Linked DNA regions of Homo sapiens: region 1 is linked to region 2. Evidence: fine-mapped expression QTL. A gene starts in region 2. The other region holds a variant in brackets. All regions are shown on one strand. Distances are between the middles of the regions. Region 1 has its middle 32 kb from the start of PDZD8. Region 2 holds the start of ENO4 (enolase 4).

Evidence for each region. PIP is the estimated chance that this variant, and not a neighbour inherited with it, causes the effect. A credible set is the group of variants that fine-mapping cannot tell apart.
Region 1: its variant is the best candidate, but not a certain one, in a credible set for the expression of ENO4 in nasal epithelium (TOPMed, PIP 0.51).

Annotation. Positions count from the first base shown.
Region 1 is chr10:117,405,101-117,409,487 of GRCh38, forward strand. No RefSeq gene overlaps it. Among named protein-coding and RNA genes, the nearest start is that of PDZD8, 32 kb to the left of the region's middle. RefSeq lists a cis regulatory region at 3,847-4,205. The variant C/T (reference allele first, on the strand shown) is at 2,334.
Region 2 is chr10:116,846,976-116,851,362 of GRCh38, forward strand. It overlaps ENO4 (enolase 4), which reads left to right and starts at 2,524. Exons shown (of 14, transcript NM_001242699.2): 1 at 2,524-2,756. The coding sequence starts at 2,592. It also overlaps a transcript of HSPA12A not described here. RefSeq lists an enhancer at 1,171-1,340.

The DNA.
Region 1 (4,387 bases), 560 kb after region 2:
AACATGTTGTATGGTTTTCTCTAAAGGCATTTGGCCATGTAGCATTTTCTTCCCAGATCAGCTCTTCTTAAGGTTAGTGTTCCAAGGTGCAAGCTTTGAGAAATGCTGCCTGACAACTTTTACAAAAGTCTAAACCCTGGGTGTGCATGTTAATTCGTATTTCTCTATCCACACCTGGGAACCCGCCTCTCAAAGCAGTCACTTCCAAGAAGGAGGAATGTTTGTGCTGTGTAGGGCATCTGTGGTTTAATTCAGGGAATTGTCACCATGCTATTTGGCCAAAGCTAAGCCACATCCTCTAATATAGCTTTTTCAGTAATAAAGATGATATTTTTATTTCCATTTGTCTAAATACTTTGTCCTCAATTTGTTCAAAACTCAGGCAGAATTTCTTTTCTGGAATCAAAATTCCAACAGGGACTGGGCATGGTGGTTCACGCCTGTAATTCCAGCACTTTGAGAGGCCGAGGCATGTGGGTCACTTGAGGTTGGGAGATGAAGGCCAGTCTGGCCAACAGGGTGAAGCCCCATCTCTATTAAAACTACAAAAATTAGCTCGGTGTGGTGGTGTATGCCTGTAATCCCAGCTACTCCAGAGGCTGAGGCAAGAGAATCGCCTGAACCCAGGAGGTGGAGGTTGCAGTTGAGCCAAGATCATGCCACTGCACTCCAGCCTGTGCAACAGAGTGAGACTCCACCAAAAAAAAAAAAAAAAAAAAAAAAAAAATTCCAACAGGGACCATGAAGCTGGGGTTCCTCTGGACACATTTTGAAAACCACTGCTGGAGGCTTATGCAATGCCAGAATGGAGATTTTTGCCATTTGCCGGTAAAAGAAGCTGCGTGAGGCTTCCTGCCAGGTCTCTGACCCCGTGTGGAGGTAAAAGAAAATGATGCAAACAAAAGCAAAGAAACAACAAGATCAAATTAAGAACTGATGGAGGGCTGGGTTTGGTGGCTTACACCTGTAATCCCAGCACTTTGGAAGGTTGAGGCAGGTGGATCACTTGAGACCAGGAGTTCAAGATCAGCCTGGCCAACATGGTGAAACCTTGTCTCTACTAAAAATACAAAAATTAGCCAGGCGTGGTGGTGTGCACTTGTAATCCCAGCCACTCAGGTGGCCAAGGCATGAGAAATGGTTGAACCCAGGAGGCAGAGGTTGCAGCTAGCCGAGATTGTGCCACTGCACTCCAGCCTGGGCAACAGAGTGAGACTCCATCTCAAAAAAAAAAAAAAAAAAAAAAAAATGAAAACAGGCCAGACGCGGTGTCTCACGCCTGTAATCCCAGCACTTTGGGAGGCCGAGGCGGACAGATCACGAGGTCAGGAGATCCAGACCATCCTGGCTAACATGGCGAAACCCCATCTCTACTAAAAATACAAAAAATTAGCTGGGCGTGGTGGCGGGCGCCTGTAGTCCCAGCTACTGGGGAGGCTGAGGAAGGAGAATAGCGTGAACCTGGGAGGCAGAGCTTGCAGTGAGTCGAGATTGTGCCACTGCACTCCAGCCTGGGCGACAGAGTAAGACTCCGTCTCAAACAAAACAAAACAAAACAAAACAAACAAACAAACAAAAACAAACGAAAACAAAGAATGATGGAGGCAGGGAGACCTGACCAAGTCCAGGAGAGAGATGCTGGGAACCTAATCCAGGGCAATGAGGGCTAGGGAGAGGGGAAGTCACTGAGAGGCGGATAGGTAGGCAGGACTTGATGCCCGATGGCTCTGGGGCAGAGGGCGGAGGGGAGCTGAGGAAGACGTCCAGGTGGCTGACTTGGATGACTGTGTGGATGGAGCTACATGAGGAGGAATGGAGGGGGAAGGAAGGTTGTAATTTTGATCTGAACTCCGTGTCCTCAACTCTTAGGGAGAGAGGAGGAGGGGAAGCAGTACTATTGGCAATTAGTAGGAAGAGGGAAATTATGAGTACAGTGTGAGGCTTTTGAAAGGAAATCCTCTCTGGGGTTGGGGTGGAAAATTACTAAGGTGAAAAACTTGCCTAGGGAAGCTTTAAGCTTTCTCTCTAGGGGGCTGCTTTACTTCACTTCCCTTCCAGACTCACAGCTTGGGAGGTGAGATGGGCAGCTTCTCAAGTAAGAAGAGCATTCCAATTCAAGGGGTGCTTTGTCAACTTAAGTTTCCAATTGCCATTCTGTTGTCCACATGTGTCATGTTTCTTTAAGTTATTGGGAGTAGATCTGTAGGGGCTGATCCCCCTGGGCCTGCAGGAGCTGGAATATCTGAGACTTTGTCTCACTGACTTCAGCAGGTTATATCCATGAGAAGCCTTGGTTAGTGGGATCGGCCTTCCTCTAATTTCTGCACTGTCTC[C/T]CTCAAGGAGGAGCTGTAAAGATCACGTGAGATAACAAACATAGTGCACCAAATGTATTGACTGGCACTTGGCCGGTGCTGCCCGCACTAGATCTTCTTTTAATATCCATAGCCCGCAAAATGCCAGATCTTGAAAAAGGCCATCCTGGTGGCTTAAAGCACTGACCTACTTGGGTGTGACTCCTGGGGATAATAATCCCACCATCAAAAGATCATGGTAAAGATTCGAAGTGACATGCCATATAAAGAGCTTAGTACAGGCCGGGCGTGGTGGCTCACATCTGTAATCCCGGCACTTTGGGAGGCCAAGGTGGGCAGATCACCTGAGGTCAGGAGTTCGAGACCAGCCTGGCCAACATGGTGACACCACATCTCCACTAAAAATACAAAAATTAGCTGAGCATGGTGGTGCATGCGTGTAGTCCCAGCTACTTAGGGGACTGAGGCAGGAGAATCTCTTGAATCCTGGAGGCAGAAGTTGCAGTGAGCTGAGATCCTGCCACTGCACTGCAGCCTGGGCAACAGAGCAAGACTCTGACTCAAAACAAACAAACAAAAAAAAGCCAAGTGCAGCAGCTGGCACCTAGCAGTACATCACAGTGGCCATTACATTATAATTATTCTCATCAATCCAAAAGAGACTGGAGAAGGTGTGACTTCAGATGTGATAGACCAAGGCTTCACTCTATCCCAGAATATTCAAAAACAAAATGCCACAAAACACTTTTCCCATTAAAAAAAACTCCAATTGCCTTATTCACATATCATCCTTCAGAATCTATAAACAGTTCGTATTGTGGGCTGTGCATCAGCTGATCACTCACACTTTGCAAGGCTGCTCAGGAATATTCGGTAAACTCATCTTAGGGCCCAGTGGGCTGTAAGGTATAGTGAGTTAAATGGTGGCCTCCAGAAAGATATGTCCAACTCCTAACTTCTGGTCCCTATAAATGTGACATTATTTGGAAAAAGGGTCTTTGCAGATATAGTTAAGGATCTAGATCATCCTGGATTAAATAGATGACAAGTGATGAGAGAGGAGAGGAGAAGACACAGGGACAAGAGGAGACGGTCATGTGAAGATGGAGGCAGGACTGGAGTTGTGCAGCCACTAGCCAAGGAATATCTGGAGCCACCAGAAGCTGGAGGAAGCAAAGAATAATCTTCCCACAGAGGCTTAGGAGGGAGCATGGCCTTCTGATGCCTTGATTTCAGGCTTCCGGCCTCCAGAACTGTGAGATAATAAGTTTCTGTTGTTCTAAGCCACCCAGTTTGTGGCAGTTTGTTACAACAGCCGTGGTTAGCTAATTTACAAGGAACAGAAACACACTTAAACTAACTTTGAGAACCAAAAAGGTGGAGGAAGGGCACTTTCTAGGAGGACTCGAGGGAATATTATGAATTCCAAGCACAGGAAGTTCAGGCTGGCCTCATAATGGACAAGGCTCAGAACCTAGACAGTTGGGAATGGGGTGGCTGTCATGACACCTGATCATTCCTCGTTTGTCATTTCTCTCTCTCTATGCCTGCAGGCTGGCTCTCTTTGGTTCCTCACTCATGGGGCCAGTCCAGGCACCTTGAACCTGACCTGTCTTCACATCCCATTTCAAGTGCCTAAGAGAAAGGCATATGGCTCTGTGGCCTGATTCCAAATTCCAGGGAGAGAAACTCACTCAACCTTGGTCCAATCAACTCTTGCTAAGGGATGAGCTCTTGTGTCTGGAGGCCTTTGTCCAAGGGTATCTGTTGCTGTCAGATACCCTTGGAAGTTCCTACTTGAGGGCCAAAGATAATTTTGAAGGGCAGAAAACCAGCCAGCTAAGTTCCATTCAGCCACCAACTTGACAGGTCAGGGAGAATCTAACCTTCTTTTCAAATCTTCCTTCCTGCTTTAGAAAATGTCCTTAGCCTTCTAACTTTCTGTCTCTGCCAACTCTTCCCTTTGATATAACCGCATCATATTACTGAGAAGGAAAAAGCAGAAAAGCCATCCATTTAGATTTTCTTTCTGTTCTAAGCATGAAGTTAATCCACTGGAACAAAAACATTATTGA
Region 2 (4,387 bases):
CTACTTCAAAACGATTTTCCCCCTTTGCCCTCCAAAGGATTCGTCTGTTCTTACAACTTTGAACTCTATGTGGATGTTGTCTATCAGGATCTTCAGTCCTCCCTTTTCTCTGGGATACCAATGCTACTCAAGCTCTACACATCTAACACCCAATGCATCATATCGCCTCCATCAAAACCAGATGACGCACTGATCCTATTTCCGTTAACTATCACAGAATTCTACAAGGTAATCTCAAAAGCCATCTTTGCTTCCCCAACTCCACCACATCCAACCACTCAAAGCCTTTTACATCCCTCCTTCCTATTCTCTCTCACTCATCAATTCCCATGGTTGCCATCAGTGTTTAGGCCCTTGCACATATACTATTTTCTGCCTCTGTCTCTTGTTTTCTGTATAACAAAAACCCATCAATGCTACCCACTGCTGCAAGTTAACTTCCTAAAACCCCACTTATTTCTTGCCCTTCCTATATTCAGAAATTTGTGGTTGCTTCCTTCTCTTACAAAATGGGATTCCAGCTTCTTCATAATCTCACCTCAAACTACTTTTCCACCCTATTTCTCATTATTCCTGAAAAGAAACCCTTTGCTCCAGCCAGGTTGGTGTACTCATTACTCACCCACCTCCAAAACATCTGATTGTGAGTTAAGTACTTATTAACCATTTATTATGTGTAAAACCCATTCAATCACTCAACAAATATTTACTGAGCAGCTATTCCATCAGGTAATGTAATGATGCTGCAGACACAGTGGCGAACAAGACAAATCAAGTCGCTGTCCTCCTGGAACTGAGGCAAATGGGTTATAGGGTTATAGGGGGAGACTCTTAAGACATGGTGGTCCCAGCCCAGGATACTCGCAATCTTCCATTGAGATGTCAAATGAATCAAGACATCCCTGAGGGCTGAACTTTGTGGTCCAGGCTGCAAATGGGGAAAGAGTTCAGAAGGAAGGGCTGGCTGGAGTGAGAGCTGGATTGTGGACGTGGCTTCTTTGATGTGGGACTCAACCCAGGCACTCAAGGATGAACATAGGAGAGAAGCAGGTGCCTTTCTTCCAGGGGTGTATGAGGAAAGGCAAAAAGGTGAAATGGAAACAGCAGCAATAGTGTCAGCTTATTTTGCATAAGGGTTCACTCAACACCTATTCAGCAGAGCACATCCTCTGCCCTTGCAGGGCCCCAGGCTCCGTGGTGGATGTGAAGGTAACACAGACTCAGATTCTACCGTCAGGGGATTTCCATCTAGCAAGGAGAGAAGGCAGGTTCATGATGGTCCATTACACACAGACAGTGAGACGTTCCGTAAGAGAGCAGAGAGAACACGGAGGAAGTTTGGAAGGTGCATGTCTGGGTTTGTGTAACAGTACTTATAGCATCACATTTTTATGCATCTGCACCCATACGTGCATGTATTGAAAATAACTGTGTTTCAAAGTGCTTTCTCACTCACTTCCTCATTTTGTACTAAGTGACTCGGGAAACAGGCAGAGGAGGTAAGATGATGTTTTCCAGAGGGGGGAAAGTGTGGCACAGATCTTGTAACTGATCTGCTTAGGTAGGAAACATAAACAGGCGTGAGTGGAACAAGAACACCCTGTCCGTCGCCGCCCACTCCTGCAGCAGAGGAAGTATCTAGAACTGAGGACGCACACTAAGTTCTGTAATCGCATGATACCTGGCAGGTACAATGAAGCCAGGAAGGCACTTCGGATTGAAAAGGGCAAGGACATAGGCAGCATTCTGGAGAGGGAACGTGAGCCAAGGCCATTCCCCCATTTCCGTTTTACCTCCCCAAGTCCTGCCTGAATCATCCCCCATCCTTAGGTCTGCCCAAACCACAACCATCCCTTAGGGTTCACCCCAGATATTTTCAACCCACACTGGTTTTTTTCATTCCATTGATTTCACCCCCACTAATATCCCAGAGAAGGGCAAGTGGCCGTTTCTCTCCTGGACATCATAGCAGGCCCAGCCAGCACACGGCTCGGCTCAGAGCAGGTAGTTAATAAACATGAGCCGAATGAAAGAATTCCTGAGATCGCCACCGCTCAGTAAGGATGCCCTGAGCCCCTACATCCCTCCCCCAACAGAGTGGGCCTGCCTGGCACGGGCGGCCTTAGCAACCCGGAGGAGCTCACTAACAGCAGAGAGCAAGGGGGCGCGTGGGGAGGGCGGGGTGGCCCAAGACGCTGGGCCACTGGGACCCGAGCGCGCGACCCCAGCCGGAATTCGGAGCTAAGGCTGCCGCGCTCCGGCAAAACGCGCTTGATGAGGTCGTTAAAGATTTCCCCCTCTGGAAAATCGCCAGGGAAAAGTGGTGAAAAACGAAGCCGGGAGGGCCCTAGTCTCGGGAGTCTAGGAGGAGCCCAACCCCCGGACCTAATGCCGCAGGGAGAAAAGACAGAGCAGCGAGCGCAAATACCATCCTAGCTCCAATAAAAGGGAACGACTTTTACCGCAGGAAGAACCTAGGCCTGGAAGCCACGCGAGATCTGGGGGTCGGGATCACGTTGCGTTGCCTAGCGACAGCAGGGACGCTCGTGGGACCCCAGGCTAAACCCCGCTGTAGCCTTAAATCTCCTACCATGGAGGAAGAAGGCGGCGGCCGCAGCTGTGGGACCACTAGGGAGCTGCAGAAGCTGAAGCAGCAGGCGATGGAGTACTACCGGGAGAACGACGTTCCGCGCAGGCTGGAAGAGCTGCTCAACTCCACCTTCTACCTCCAGCCTGCCGACGTCTACGGGCACCTGGTAGGGACCTGGGACAAGCGCTCTCCTCCCGCCAACCCCTCTCCCCCCGCCCCGCGCTGCGGCAACGCCTTGCGCCTGCGCCTGCGCCTCAGAATCTCGCATGCCAGCCGCCCGGGCCCTGGGCCTGCGTGTGCGGAGGAGACTTCTGGAGGGAAGGAGCGGGAAGGACACCCAGGGGTGAAGGGATCTCCCCAGAGAAAGTGGCAGAAAGGAGGCAGCTGGAGGAAAGAGGGCGCTAGGCGTATTTGACCTGCAGCGGCAGCCCAGGGGCTGGCAGGCTTCCTCGCTGCCTAAGAGGCCTCTCCGTTTGTGGGCCGGCCCACCGCCCATGCTTGCCAATTGTCATTTTTAACACATACCTTAATGCCCTCAGCTCAGCTCACCGACCTTAAGCAGCTCCTCTTTGATCACAGGATGAACACCTTGGCGTTTGCTACAACTTGGCTTCAGCCTATTCTGGGGCCTCATCCTACTGGCTCCTCTGCCGGGATGCCAGTTAATATCTGACCAGCCCCGCCCTAAACTCCAAAATTCAGACCAAAGCCTTGCCCACGTAGCCCTGGACCAACCGTCCTTCTGGGTTCCTACAGCATTTCCTTCGTGTATTGTAGTCTCTTGAGGCAGCCTCCCTAGGCAGCCTGTGAGCCCCTGCTGGGCTCAGAAGCCTTGTCTTCTCACCTTCCGGGTCTCTGCCCAGCCCTGAGATCTGGCACATACCTTAGCGTTAAGCAGTGAGCAGCTGAAGCAAAGACGTTTTCTCCCTTCCAGATCTATAAGTAGTAAGGAAGGCAGTGTGGCTGGGGCCCCTAGGAGTTTGCACTATGGCAAGGCAAAGCAAGGAGGCAATGTGAACACCAAGCAGAAGGAGTCCTATGAAGAGGCAGATGTGCTGTCAGGGTGCAAAACCACGTCGTATTGAGGCAGTTGATATAAAGGATGTTCCGCGAATGACTTTTTCCCACTCATGGCCTATACTATCAAAGGGGAGAGGTGTGGGGTTTACTGAGCCCCTTGTGCTGCGTACTGTAACTCAATCCTCAGTACCACTGCGACGAGGTAAAAATGATGATTCCCATTTTACAAATAAAGAACCTGTGGCCAGTGCAATTTAAATGATTTTCCCAAAGGACATAGTGACAGAAGAAAAAAAATCAAACCACATTTGTGTCCCTAGTACCCAGCAGAGTGCATGGCACACAGTGGATGCTGAGAAACTACCTGCAGGATGAATGAGTGAATGCTTGACTCTCATTCCATTCTCTTCCTACTATCTGTTGCTAGAGGAATTCTTGAACACAATCTATTCTAACGTCCTCATTTTACAGGGACACCAAGTCTTTGTCTCACAGCTACTTAGTGTACAAGCTAGGACTAAAAACATGGACTCTTGTTCCCCAGTATAATGATCTTCTTATTCTATTAGGCAGCCAGGATATTCGTTTGTACAGCTCTCTGGGAACTTACATCTTAGTTTGGGACAAAAGTCACTAATACATAAAATAATTGGAGCAAAAGATAAGGTGATAGATGACTGTGTGCTAGATTGAGGGGCAGATCCCTATATGCCTATTAAAGGAATTCAGGGATGGAAAAGATCCTTGGAGGCTGTATATCCAGGAAGGCTTTGGCTT